2 linked regions of the Homo sapiens genome follow. The protein of the gene in region 1 interacts with the protein of each later gene in a biochemical or structural test. Each region holds a gene or a part of one and is shown in the gene's direction. Other genes may lie near its edges.

Region 1 (7,282 bases):
GTTCCATAAGCAAGGAGGCTTGTAGGGGTAAAAAGGCTAGTAATGATGCTTGTGGGCTAGTTAGTCTTGTACCTTCACCTACAAAGGTGGATTATTTCTGTCTAGAAAATGCAATTATCTTGAGAATGATATAGGAGAATCTGAAATTGAGACAAACGCTTCTGTTCTTTCTTTGATACTATGGGAAACAAATGGGAACTTAGGGTCATTAGAAATATGGCCTCACATACTCCTGAGATTGTCTTGCTGAAGCCGGACTGGTCTGGGGTCACCATTCTCTGAATAAACAAGTATAAGGGGAAAGACGTGGGGACTCTGCCTGGAGAGAATGGTTTCCATCTCCCCTGCAAGTAAAAGTTACATTTTAGTGTTAACAAAAAAGTGTGGCTGTGAAGATAGCACTGTGTGTATGTGTATGTGTTTGTGTGTGTTTGCATACACGTGCATGCACACATATGAGCACATCGCCCAGGAGAGACAGATATGATGAGACTTCCTTGAGCCAATCCTGTGTTGGCACCCACCACTTCTCCCCGCTTTGTGGCTTAATACCTATGAATCTCCAACAGTGAAGGTGCCTCAACACCTAGGAAGAGAGAAGAATCAAGTTGAGGTTTTATAATGCCAGAACCCTAAGTCATATTTGTAATATCTCCCAGAATCAAGTTATATATCAGCAGGCTACAGTTACCTAAGAGTTGAGGTCTTGAAAATAGCTTAGAACAGCAGCCCAGTCATTTGCATTTTCCTGGGATATAGTTTATAGGACTTTAGATTCTTAGGTTATCTTCTTGGGCTCCTCAGAGGTCATGCCAGATGCCCCTGACTCCAAACAGGGAAGCTGTTTCCTTAGTCCAGAAATACAATGGTCTTTCTTCTTTTATTAAAGTTCTCCTAAACAGAACTTTTTCCAATGAATTTTCCAGTTTCTGAACACCAGGACTGGACTCAGCAACTGGAGCTTCTCCATCCTACCAGGTACTCTGCTTAGCAGAGGAGCATCCTGCATATAGGAAACACTCGGAAACCATGGGCAGCAGAAAGGACACAGGTTGATTCAACTTCTCAGCAGGCACCCTCCTTTGTAGGTAGCCTCTTACTTAGCTGAACCCCAGCACCATTTTCCCTCTTCTCACCTCCAGTAAGGCATTTTGTGGCCTTGGAAGGACCTTGGGATTAGGTATAAGCCCTTCTGCTCTCCAGAATATACCATGGAGCCACTAAGGATGCACAAATTGCTTATTTACCAATTTGAGCAGTAGACTAATGTTATCTCTGGCCTTTTAAATTACTCTAATGGTGTTGGAATCTAATATTAATATACTTTTGCCTCTCACCTGTTCCCATGACCAATGTAATTGGAGATTTCTTTCCTCTGTACTTAAATGGATGCAAAACTTTCTTATTTTTTGACAATAGAATCATATTATCTAAATGTACAGGCCTGGAAAATAGCTTGATTATAGTGTCAGCACATGGGGATGGAGGAGTAATAAAACTATAAGACTCAGCCACTTGGTTTTCTTTGATTTGGGTCCAGAGAAAGGAGAGAAATTTGCCCTCAGAATTGCAGATTTTTCTTTTCTTTTTCCTTTCACCTTAATCTGGTAAATGGGTTAAATCAATACCCTTGGCAGCTGGGATGCCCTTGGAAGGCACAGCCTCTTCTCTCCCTAGGATACATGAGAGTGTTTCACTGCAGAGGGGCCAAGGACCCTGGTGGCTCTAGTGTATAGGGAGGAGTCAGAGATGACACACTGGGGTCTGAGGCCTCCCTCTTCCCCTGGATAGAAGAAACTGTGCTGCTGCAGTGCTTTGAACTCAGAAGCCTGGAAACTCCTAGGGGCATTTGGGAGAGTATGGGACAGTGTACAGAGGTGAGAGCAGAGGAGAAGTAGACTCTTAGGAGGCCCTGAAAGAGGCTGATGTTAAATATGCATTGAATATAGGTATCAGCTTAGTGTAGTTTGGGCAATTTTGTCATAATCTGATGTCACCTGTAAGGATTTTTACTTTTTCCAGTAGGAGATGAGGGAATTCTTTGCTGTCTGAAGGGACAGGGAGGGGAAGGAGGGAAAACCTCTGGTTTCCCCTGCAGCCCTCTGGGTAATGTCAGCTTGCTTCCAGACAGAGGGCGGTAAGGGAAGTCAGGCAGACCTGGCTCCCAGGAGCTCCATCAATAGGCCTGCAGTTAGCCTGGGCAGTCCTGCCTTCCAGGAAGCTGTCGCTCAGCACAGAACTGCAGCTGTGGCCCCAACGATAATCCCCTGCAGATGTCTGGGAGCCAAAGGGAGTCCTGGCGCCTGTTCATTTGTTATTGGTCTCCTTCAGAACGTGCCTGCCCTTCTCATTTCCACCCCCTCCTTGTTGTTATTGTTTGGGTTCTAAGTGGCCCAGCAGGAGAAAGACATTAGAAATGAAATTATTTTTGTTACATGCTACATCATTGCCTCCTCTCCTACCTGCTACCCCAGGCAGCACCATCACTAGCAACTCCCAGGAACTCTTGATATGGGAAAGTGGCTTAGTACCAGGCTTCCCTAGAATGAGAAGTGGTCCTGTTCACCAGACCCTCCTTTGCTGGCCTCATCATCATAACGGCCAGCATTTATTGTGCACTTACTGTGTGCAGGGCGCTGTGCTCAGCACTTGACATAGGTTCTTCATTTAAACTCCCAATCCTGCAACAACTCTGTGAAATAGGAACCCTTGTTTTTACATTTTTTGTTTGTTTATTATTTATTTATTTATTTATTATTTTCATTTTTAGAGAGAGGTCTTGCTCTGTCACCCAGGCTGGAGTGCAGTGGTGCAATCATAGCTCACAGCAGCCTTGAACTCCTGGGCTCAAGTGATCCTCCTGCTTCAGCCACCCGAGCAGCTGGGAGTACAGGTGCATGCCAGCATGCCCAACTAATTTTTTAAAGAATTTTTTGTAGATATAGGGCCTTGCTTTGTTGTCCAGTCTGGTCTTGAACTCCTGGCTTCAAACGATCCTCCTGCCTCAGAGTAACCCTTATTATTCCATTTTGCAGAGGAAGAAGCATAGGCTTAGAAAGGTAAGTGGTTTGCACAAGGTCACACGTTTCATGTGTGAGACAAAGATTCAAAACCAGACTGTTTAAGGCTAAAGCAATAGCCCTCTCTGATACGTAAGTGGCATAAAGAACAAGAAAAGGAGGAGAATAGGGATAAGAAGATAATTCTTTAGTGAATGAAAGGGCAGTAATCTTTGTGTATGATACCAGGAAAGTGAAGAGGGAGACAGCAGATGGAGAAGGATGAATAAAATAACTCCTTGGGATTCTTAAATTTGAGAACCAGCGAGGAAGTGTTCTGTACCTGGATCTGGGTCCCTTTGGATGAAATGCACTGGGCGTAAACCTCAGCAAGCAGTGGGAGCAGGAGGGAGGGCGGCAGGAGCAGGAGGGAGGCAGGGTCAACTAAGCCTTCCAACCTGGGGGAGGAGCTGGGAGGAGGTGTAGACGGATGTTTTGTCAAGCTCTTCTGGAACTGTGATGACATTACCTTCTGTCCCACATCTCTTTGAGGTGAACTGAACTGTCCAAAGGATGAAAGCCAGACTTCTGCCAACAATTAGGTCTTTGGGTTTGCTTTCTTATTACCATAGAAGGAAAACTTGTTATATCTCCAAGACTAAGCTTCCACATTTTACAGAAATGTGAGGGCGGGATGGCCTGGGATCCTGGACAGACACAGGAGTGACTCATGAGAGCTGCCTTTAAAAAATGAGCTGATTAGCCAGACGCGGTGGCTCACGCCTGTAATCCCATCCCTTTGGGAGGCTGAGGTGGGCAGATTGCTTGAACTCAGGAGTTCACAACCAGCCTGGGCAACACAGTGAAACCCCATCTCTACTAAAACACACAAAAAAATTAGGATCTGGCAGCATGCACCTGTGGTCTCAGCTACTCAGGAGGCTGAGGCAGGAAAATTGCTTGAACCTGGGAGGTAGAGGTTGCAGTGAGCCAGTATCGTGCCACTGCACTCCAACCTGGGTGGCAGAACGAGACTCCATCTCAAAAAACAAACAAACAAACAAACAAAAAACAAAAAAAACCCTGATCAATGCTTTTCTGATAGACAGAGGCAGGTGAGGCCTGGATGTCCCTGGGCAGGGCACTTAACCTGCTCATCAGTTATTTCAGGCACAAATAAGGGACTGTAATAATCGTGTTCACCTCATAATAAGTGAGAAGACTCCTCTGTTGTTGAGCCTCACCATGAGTTTTATGAATGACATATATCAATATTTAGTCACCTATTTAAACCCTTTAAAAACAACACCATATGGTAGTTAAACCTGTGGGCTCTGGAATTAGACTTCCAGGATTTGAATCCTGACTCTAACACTTACTAGCTATGTGACCATGAGCAAGTTAATTAACCTCTATCACCTGGGGGTTCTCACCTGTAAGTGGATGTTAATACCAACATAATTGGGTCACAGTAATTAATTAAGGTAATAGAGACAAGACATTTGAAAGAGTCCCTGGGAAAAGTGAGTACTCTTTAAATGTTAACTGTAATGATTGTTATTGTTATTATTAAGATGCTTAAGTAAGAAACAACACTTTGAGCTGTTGTCCTTTTGCAGTAATTCAGCACCTGATTTTACATTTCTGAAATCATGTTTCTAAAACGTTCACAAAATTCAAGGATATACTTCTTTCTTACACTCTCCACTTATCTGCACCAAAATTCTTTGGCTTTCACCTGTCAGCAGCTCTTGCTCATTTTGAGCGAGATAGGGGTTTGAATTGCTTGTCATCCCTTTGATTTAGGTGCAGCTGAATTCATTTCCATCTTACACCACATGAGCTAGGAAGAGGCATAAGTTATCCTGGTGATAGCTTTTCATGGCCTAATTTTTCTTCCTGGTTTCCTGGGCTCTGTGTCTGCTACCTCATGGTTGGAGCCTCCCTGATTGGCAGTGTCACATGGTATGTTGCTCTGGCACAGGCCAGTTTTTATTAAAAACAAAAAACAAGGAGAATGTACTGGTGTACAAGGACAAGGTGACTTTTTTTCTTTTCCCAGATTGAAAGGGCCAAAGAACTTCACATGAGCAGACCCCCAAAGCTGGCAGAAATATGTGTTCTGCAGCTTCTGGAGTCATTCTTGGCAGGAGCAAATGCTATCATGTTTTTAGGTGAAGTATGGTCCTGCCTGAGAAAGGAGGATGGAAACAGTAGCTTCTGGTCCTGAGATTCCCCAGTGCATAAAGATAATCCCTCTTGTTGGCCTTTTTCTTGGTCTATGAATCCCTTCTTGGGGAGGACTCTCTTGTAATTGATGTGCATCTATTTCTGGCCAGCTACAAATGCTCACCATTTAGCTATGGTAGAATATTTCAGAAGGCACTGTAGGTATTCTGTTCCTGGGTCATCTTCCTTGGTTCATCCTTTTTTGGACTCAGCCCTTTCAACTCTTTCACTCATTTATGGCAGGGTCAATAAGAGACATGTGTTGACAAGCAGAAACTAACTTCCAGGGTCCCAGGCAGAGGATGTCAGCACCGCCTCCCACCGCCTGCCCCCGCACCACGGTGGATCCATGTTTCCACACACTATTTTTCTTTAGTAGTATGTGTAGTTGAAGGTCTGGGATCACTCTAGAGTCACATTGTGACTAATGACACAAAATCTCCCTTGTGGCCTGTCTTCTGTGAGGAGCCAACTTAATGCTTAATGCTAATCTCTCAATTGTGCATTTCTTGTCTTCTCCACCAGACCATGAGCTCCTTGAAGCAGAGAATTTGTCTCATGCTTCTCTAAAATCTATTATAACCTAAAATGGTGCTAGGCACTTGGTAGTTACTTAAATTGTTGAGTGAGAGTGGGTGAGTGGATAAGTGATGGGTAGGTGAGAGACAGCTTACTTCCCCATAGCGACACTCTCCCTCTACTTTACTTGCAGCTTAACAAGAGTGGCAGTGTCTGAGGCATCCCCCACTAGAGGTATCTCATAGGTCAGCAACATACTTCATGCCTTCTCTCTTTCATCCCTAACCTGCACTATCTGGCCACCCTCAGCCATGAAGACATTATAGGTTGGATGGAAATTTTTCGCAGTTGTCACAGGGCATGGAAGTTGGGGAATATTGAATGGTTGGAACCTACTTCAATCAGACACACTCATGGAGAAAATGCACTGGGGGGGCTGTTGAGGAAACATACACAGGTGTGTTTGTTCAGGTCAGCCTGGGGACCTGAAGACAAAAGAGCTGTTATTGAGGGATGCCATTAGTGCTTTGGTGATTTCTGTGTTTAGACTTTGGGGAATTGGACTAGTCCTTACTTTAAAAGGTACAGATAAGCATGATTATACCCAAGACCCTCCAAACGCAGTAACAGTTTGAACCTATCTTTCCACAAAGCACTTTTAAGAAGTGGGCTATGCATCCCCTGTCCCTCTAGTTATTTAGTTAAACAAAGTGGTTCAGAGCACTCAAAAACCAGGCTAATGCAGGATCAGATCTTTGTTCTATCGGTCATGAGCTATGTGACCTCTATCAAGTTACTATCACCCCTTTGAGATGCAGTTCTTTATCCCTTCATAAAACAGGATGACTATATACTTACCTGATTGGGTTTTGTGCAAAGGAAATGAGTCACGCACATAAAGTGCTTGTCTCAGTACCTGATGCATGGTAAGCTCTCAGCAAACATTCACTATCATTATCCTTATCGTAATTATCAGTGGGCAGAGAAGTGTCCACAGAACCCTTCCCAACCTGTGCTCCAAATTTTATATTCTCTCTTCTGGAGGGAAGAAAGACACCATTGCAGATGAAGACATTAGACCAGGTATGAATTGGCATAGAGTGTTATACTTGAAAGAACCCAATGTTACACAGCAGAGAAGTAGGAGAGCTGGACTAGAACTCACTTCTGCCCAGGGTTTTTCCTCCACACCTGGCTCAGGTTAGACCATGGAGTTTTGAAGAAACTCAGTGGCTAATGAATGGGATTTGAAGTGAAGATGGTACAAGGTAAGGCCAAAGGCTTAGGCAGGGGCCTGACTATGAACCTTGAAGTCTTATGTAGGAGACTGGATTCCATCCTGAGGGAAAAAAGAAGCCAACTTGAAGGATTGGGTTTTAAGCACAGGGACAACTCCAGTGATTCAATTTGCAGTAAAACAAACAAACAAACAAACAAACAAACAAACAACAACAACAACAAAAACTGGCCAGGCATGGTGGCTCATGCCTGTAATCCCAGCATTTTGGGAGGCCAAGACAGGCAGATCACTTGAG
Region 2 (7,282 bases), on another chromosome or scaffold:
TGCACTCCAGTCTGGGTGACAAGAGTGAGACCCCATCTCAAAAAAAAAAAAAAAAAAGATAATCTGGGAGATCTGTCCTATCGTAGTTCTCATAGTATCCATCACTGACCTTATTTTACTGATCATCTTGCTTTATTATTAGTTATATTCCCTTTTAACCAAAAGCTCTATGAAGGGCAGAGTCCATGTTTGTGTTTGCTGTTACGTCTTCAGTATCCAGAACAGTGTTCGTTACTTAACACCTATTCAGTAGATATTGGTCGAAAGAATTAATGGTACTTTTACATTTTTTTCATTGTGTGGGAATAATGATTAACTTCTACAGTTACAAATAAGTTGCTACTATAACCATATGTCCTTGGGGAATGTTAATTTTTTTAAGCTCAATAGAAAATATTCTTGGCATTTTTCTTGCTGAATACTAGGGATTTTAATAAAATGTTTATATTTCCACAGCACAACCAGTGTCTCTGAAGAAGATGTCTCAAGTAGATATTCTCGAACAGATAGAAGTGGGTTCCCTAGATATAACAGGGATGCAAATGTTTCAGGTACTCTGGTTTCAAGTAGCACACTGGAAAAGAAAATTGAAGATCTTGAAAAGGTATGGATTATAAGTTATTTAAGATTGATAAAATTAATATACCATTAGAATTCTTTTGTTTCATAGCAACTGAGTGAGAAAGGAAATAATATTCCTTAATATTTAATATGTGCGCTTTTCTGCCAACTGTTACCTTTAGTATATTAAAAGCCCTTGTTTTTGAAGTGGTTAGAAGTCTGAGCTGGCAAATATATACTACTGTGTATTTATTATATTGTCTGAATAGATTTTCATTTGTAACTTTACAAATTACAGGAGTAAATCTGAGTTAGGTCCATCTTTGGTGTTTGAAACAATTTTGTCTAAGAATATGCCTGTTTAAAAGTGTCTTTCAGTGCAAGTCAGATGACTCTTGGCATAAATTTATTAACCATAGGGTCTCAGGTTTGTGCCATAGACATTCAACCCCTAAAATTAGCAATGGTGTTGAATACTTTTGTAATTGTTGAAAATGTGTTTTGTTTTACTTGAGATTATTCTCTATATTATTAAAGATCTAATTTATATATGTTATGTAAAGAAATTTCATTTTTAAAACTTGTTTCTATTTTATAACATTTATGATTTTTTGAGGTCACATTTCTAAGCTTTAACAACAGTTTCTTCTTGGAATTATTATTTCATAGTTTTATTTATTTTTATTTATTTATTTAGTTTTGAGACAGAGTTTCGCTCTTGTTGCCTAAGCTGGAGTACAATGGCTCAGTATCGGCTCACTGCAACCTCCACTTCCCAGGTTCAAGTGTTTCTTCTGCCTCAGCCTTCCAAGTAACTGGGATTACAGGCATGCACCACCAAGCCCGGCTAATTCTTTTTTTGTATTTTTAGTAGAGAAGGGGTTTCACCATGTTGGTCAGGCTGGTCTTGAATTCCTAACCTCAGGTGATCCACCCGCCTCGGCTTCCTAAAGTGCTGGAATTACAGGCGTGAGCCACTGTGCCCAGCCTATTATTTCATAATTTTAAATTAAAAAGTTTAGACAATATGTAATCTAATAGTTTTGAAGATAGTTGCCCAGAAAGGCTTCGTGAGTTCCACAAGAGTTTGGATTGAATTGCTAGTAGTTGGCAGCAGCTAAGGGATATGGATGGTTGATTGCTCTGTAGGAGGTTTAGTAAGAAAGAAGCCAAGTTCTGGGCAAGGCCTTTTGAGCTCTGCTTCCCTTTTGCCCCCAAGGTGGCTGACCAAGCCCAGTGCCCTGGATTCTAAATAAGATGTCTTTGAAAAAGATGTTGCATTGTTTAAAGAAAAAAAAAATTAAAAATCAGTAATCTATTTTAGTTCCTTCTTTTTATCCATTATCAGTTAACTGGCAGAGCCAGAAGTAAAACTGAGGACCATTGTTTTTCTGTTTAGAGTTTCTATTGGGCCATCTCCTTTAAACTTTGTATTTTTAAGAAAAATTAATTTTGAATTATTTCAAACAAGATACCCATTAAAAAATAAGGTAGTTCATAACTTATAGTGGTGATAAGCTAAATAAGTTAAATCACAGGCCGGGCACAGTGGCTCACGCTTGTAATCCCAGCACTTTGGTAGGCTGAGGCGGGCAGATCACTTGAGGTCAGGAGTTCGAGACCAGCCTGGGCAACATGGCAAAGCCCCATCTGTACTAAAAATATGAAAATTACCCAGGCATGGTGGCATGCACCTGTAATTCCAGCTACTTGGGAGGCTGAGGCAGGAGAATCGCTTGAACCCAGGAGGTGGAGGTTGCAGTGAGCCAAGGTGCCATTGCACTCCAGCCTGGGTGACAAGAGTGAAACACTGCCATACATACATACACACACACACACACACACACACACACGAGGTTAAATCATTGAGTCTATTACATTAGTTTTGTTAAAGACTTGTATAAACATAGCTTTACTCAGGAGCATCCTAATATCTCCTGTGCATTCTCTGATTCCTTTTGTGGTGGGATCTTTGTTCCTTCACCAAATGTCTTAAGGGATTCATTGGAAATCTTCATGTATGTAAGATATTTTACCAAATTGGGGAGATATATGCCACTTAGGAAGATTATAAATAAACAATTACTTCCTAATTACTGGTTTTTAATTGTATCTACCAGGAAGTAGTAAGAGAAAGACAAGAAAACCTAAGACTTGTGAGACTGATGCAAGATAAAGAGGAAATGATTGGAAAACTCAAAGAAGAAATTGATTTATTAAATAGAGTAAGTATTTCACCATATTTCAGGTTTGGAGGGGTTTTTTTTGGCAATTGGATGAAAATATATAAATATGAAGAAATTATTAATTGCATTATTCACTTTGTTCTTTTGTTAGTGAAATAATAATTAGTAAGAGGTATCATTTTCTTCCAAAAACTGATTTCCTTTGGGCAGTTATCAGTTTAGCTCACTTAATTTTATTCTTTTGGAGATAGACTGATTTATGGATTTGTTCTCTGTTTTGTTAAAATCTGAGGGTGACAGGCGCTTTGTCACTACCATATGTAAGGGCACTGGCACAGAGTTGCCTCAAGAAATATCTAAAATTGGCCAGGCGCTGTGGCTCACACCTGTAATCTCAGCACTTTGGGAGGCCGAGGAGGGCGGATCACGTGAAGTCAGGAGTTCGAGACCAGCCTGGCCAACATGGTAAAACCCCGACTCTACTAAAAATATGAAAAATTAGCTGGGCATGGTGGTGGGCACCTGTAATCTCAGCTACTCAGAAGGTTGAGGCAGGAGAATTGCTTGATCCCAGGAGGCGGAGGTTGCAGTGAGCCAAGATTGCGCTGCTGCACTCCAGCCTGGGCAGCAAGAGTAAGACTCTGTCTCAAAAAAAAAAAAAAAAAACCCTAAAATTGGTACTCTTTATTATTATTATTATTATTTTTTGAGAAGGAGTCTCTCTCTGTTGCCCAGGCTGGAGTTCAGTGGCGCGATCTCAGCTCACTGCAACCTCCACCCCCCGGGTTCAAGTGATTCAAATTGATTACATCAAGATTTATTATTTTAAACTGCAAGAATAAATCTATAAATGTCTGCTTTTTTAACAGTAAAGAGTCTGTCTTGAAATAATGTTTCTTGTAACTAAAACTTATGGTGAATTTGTTTTAACCAGATGGTTGTGTGTTTGGGACAAGGATTAATACAGGGAAAAAAGAGCTGGATCATATGCTTTTAAAGCTGGAGAGCGAATACTTAATTTAGTGGCTTTGAATTAATTTTAGCTCTAAAACCTTTCCTTCAAAATGTCGTAGAAAAGTCCAACATACAAATTGATCTGGAGCTGAAAACAAAATTGATCCAGATCAAGATACTCCAGATCCCCTTTTCCGTAGGCCTCAGTTTTGTCACCTCTCCAGAGTGTTATCCCCATTGTACACCTTTAAAGATCAGACAGTGGTAGGAGTGCATCTAGAACTTGTACCTGCACCTTTTGATGACTAATTTGACACAAGGTTGCAACCTAGGGCTCAATACCATATATGGCTTGCATGGGTAGTTTTTTTTTTTGCCTCAGTTTTAGGGAGGGGAAGTGGAGTTTGTTTAGCTAAAAAACTAACTTATTTATGATGATTGAAAATTGGAAGATTCACAATTTTAAAATTCTGACTTTCGGCTTCCTTTGAAAAACTGAAAGATCTGTAAGAGTTGGCCTATACACTTGTTGTAAGAACGAAGAGTCAAGTAATGGATGCTCTTTTTTGGTGGGGCATATTACATCTAAAGTTGTTTTCAGAGCTTGCCCTCATTTCAAAATTAATTGGTTGTATGAATTATTTTTAATGTGTATTAAGTGTTTTCATCTCTCCTCAAATATTTTTAAGTATTTTTAAAGTGTCTTTTTTTTTTCTTAAGGACCTAGATGACATAGAAGATGAAAATGAACAGCTAAAGCAGGAAAATAAAACTCTTTTGAAAGTTGTGGGTCAGCTGACCAGGTAGAGGATTCAAGACTCAATGTGGAAAAAATATTTTAAACTACTGATTGAATGTTAATGGTCAATGCTAGCACAATATTCCTATGCTGCAATACATTAAAATAACTAAGCAAGTATATTTATTTCTAGCAAACAGATGTTTGTTTTCAAAATACTTCTTTTTCATTATTGGTTTTAAAAAAGCATTATCCTTTTATCTCACAAATAAGTAATATCTTTCAGTTATTAAATGATAGATAATGCCTTTTTGGTTTTGTGTGGTATTCAACTAATACATGGTTTAAAGTCACAGCCGTTTGAATATATTTTATCTTGGTAGTACATTTTCTCCCTTAGGAATATACATAGTCTTTGTTTACATGAGTTCAAATACTTTTGGGATGTTACCTTCACATGTCCTATTACTGATGTGTGCAACCTTTTATGTGTTGATGACTCACTCATAAAGGTTTTTGTCTACTGTCATTTGTTCTTTCCACTTATTCTAAGCATTTAGAGTAATAGAGTCATACTTTTTTATAACAGCAACCTTTTAAAAGGAAAGCTCTTATAAAGTCACTGTCATGTTTTAGTTGACTAAATATAAATTTAAGAGAATACTTGAATTGTGCTATAGTAAATAAAAATTTACTATTTTGTGTTTGAATATTGAAAAATTGAATCACTTTAACTCCTGAAAAACATACAATTGTAATTTCAATGTAAAATTTCTTATGTAGGTACTACCTTTTTTTATCGTTCCAAGGTTTGCTAGTGAACACAGGATATTTTAAAAGTTTTTTATTCTTCGGGCCTGGAAAGTGTACAAAGTCAGTGTAGGAGAAAAAAATCCATATTTTTATATTAGCATGCACACTAAAAACCAAAATATTATTCATACTTAAAACATTCATACAAAACAATATGTAAGCAGAAATAGTACTAAAATACTTTGCCTAATTTCTAAGTTGAAGAATAACACTGGGACACAGTTTTTTCATATGAGAGAATATTCCGCTATTTCAAATTTAAGGGATTTTCTTCCTAACATTGAAATTTTAAAAACAGAGTTACTTCTAAATAATTATACAGATTTTTTCTTCTATTAAATATTATTATTTAGAATTGTTTTTGTATTACATATTCATGTTAAGAACCCCGTCTTCCCTTAAAATACATTAAAATTATGACATTTTTGCTTTGTGATTGAATTTCAAATAGCAGTATGGTATCCTTTTATCTAGTTAATATATGAAAGTGGCTTGAATATAGTCAAATCCATTTTAGGTACTCTACTGACTTTTTCCTTCACTTGCCAAGCCCTTTTATTGTTCACTGTTAGAAAAATAGAGAAGGTGAGACAGCTGGGGGAAAATGTGGAGTAAATGATAATCAAATGTTGAATTCTAAAAGTCTCTACATTTACCTAGGTTGGCTTTCTCCCCCAGTTCAGAAGTTTCCAGCTTGGCCAATCATCAGAATCACTTGAGGAACTTAGAAAGAACTCCCTGGCTGTAGCTCCTATGTAGGTTTAGGTTGAGACTCTGGATTCCACAATTTTTAAAGGTTACCATCTGAGGTTTCTGATCATAGTCTACTTTTGAAGCAGCTGCTGCTGTTTCTTTATTCCATTGAACACCCTGGAATTGACATAATTTTATCTATCAGCATTTCTCCCCTTTTAGTTTATTTAATAATTAACCCGGTCTCCAGGGCAGTTTTCATATGACCATGTGTATATTCACTGCTCACGAAAAAGTTTAATGTTAGATTACCAAATTTAATATAGTTACAGAATTACTGCATAAGGGCTTCCCTTCTTGGAGACTCTTACCCAGCATGGGAACAGTGATCTGCCCACATGACAGGGTGGTATGCCAGGCATAGTTAACTGCTTTTGGTTGTGAGGTACTCATCTTCCTTTAGTTACCCTTAGTTATGTGGCACACATGTCCTTATTGCCTAGTTCGTCATCCACACTTTGGATCTTGTGAAAATGCTGTTAGTATCCAACCTTAAAATATATTAGTATATGGGTTTTTATTAAAAGAATTACTTTGAATTTTCTATTTAATTCATATGTAAATAAAGGAACATTTCATTTCACTTAAAAAAATTATATCAGTTATTAGGCTGGGTGCAGTGGCTCATGCCTGTAATCCCAGCACTTTGGGAGGCCAAGGCGGGTGGATTACCAGAGTTCGGGAGTTTGAGACCAGCTTGACCAACATGGAGAAACCCCGTCTCTACTAAAAATACAAAATTAGCCAGGTGTGGTGGCGCATGCCTGTAATCCTGGCTACTCAGGAGGCTGAGGCAGGAGAATCGCTTGAAAACCCAGGAGACAGAGGTTGCGGTGAGCTGAGATTGCGCCATTGTACTCCAGCCTGGGCAAGAAGAGCGAAACTCTGTCTCCAAAAAAAAAAAAAAAAAAATTATTAATACTTTTAAAGACTGAGCTGTTTAAGAATTTTTTGGGGAACATTTCTAGCAGTGATTTTTTTGGCCTTTAATGATAGCGTAAAGACAGGAGCCTTACAACTTAGGCAAAGCATTTCACATGCAGTCCTTCTTCCATCTCAAAATATGTACTTATTTTACATACAGAATTTTACACTAACCATTGAAAAATAAAGTAGGATCTGCTACAGTTTCACCTGAAAATTTATAAAAAGTGTTGAGATTGGTAGAAGGTAGTTTTTAAGTACATGTGCACTACCCTAAAAGACTTGTCTATTGTCAATAAAGTGTTAGTATTTGTGAAATTATTATTCCTGTTCAGAAATACTATTTCTTAAA

The links.
Region 2: the proteins of DRD2 (region 1) and PAWR form a complex in vitro, tested with the Homo sapiens proteins (one study listed by BioGRID).

Annotation. Positions count from the first base shown.
Region 1 is NC_000011.10:113,465,326-113,472,607, reverse strand, and holds part of DRD2 (D(2) dopamine receptor), read left to right. Parts: intron 1-7,282. UniProt on the Homo sapiens protein: Dopamine receptor whose activity is mediated by G proteins which inhibit adenylyl cyclase. Positively regulates postnatal regression of retinal hyaloid vessels via suppression of VEGFR2/KDR activity, downstream of OPN5.
Region 2 is NC_000012.12:79,589,833-79,597,114, reverse strand, and holds part of PAWR (PRKC apoptosis WT1 regulator protein), read left to right. Parts: intron 1-456; coding exon 457-604; intron 605-2,681; coding exon 2,682-2,786; intron 2,787-4,421; coding exon 4,422-4,508; 3' UTR 4,509-7,282. UniProt on the Homo sapiens protein: Pro-apoptotic protein capable of selectively inducing apoptosis in cancer cells, sensitizing the cells to diverse apoptotic stimuli and causing regression of tumors in animal models.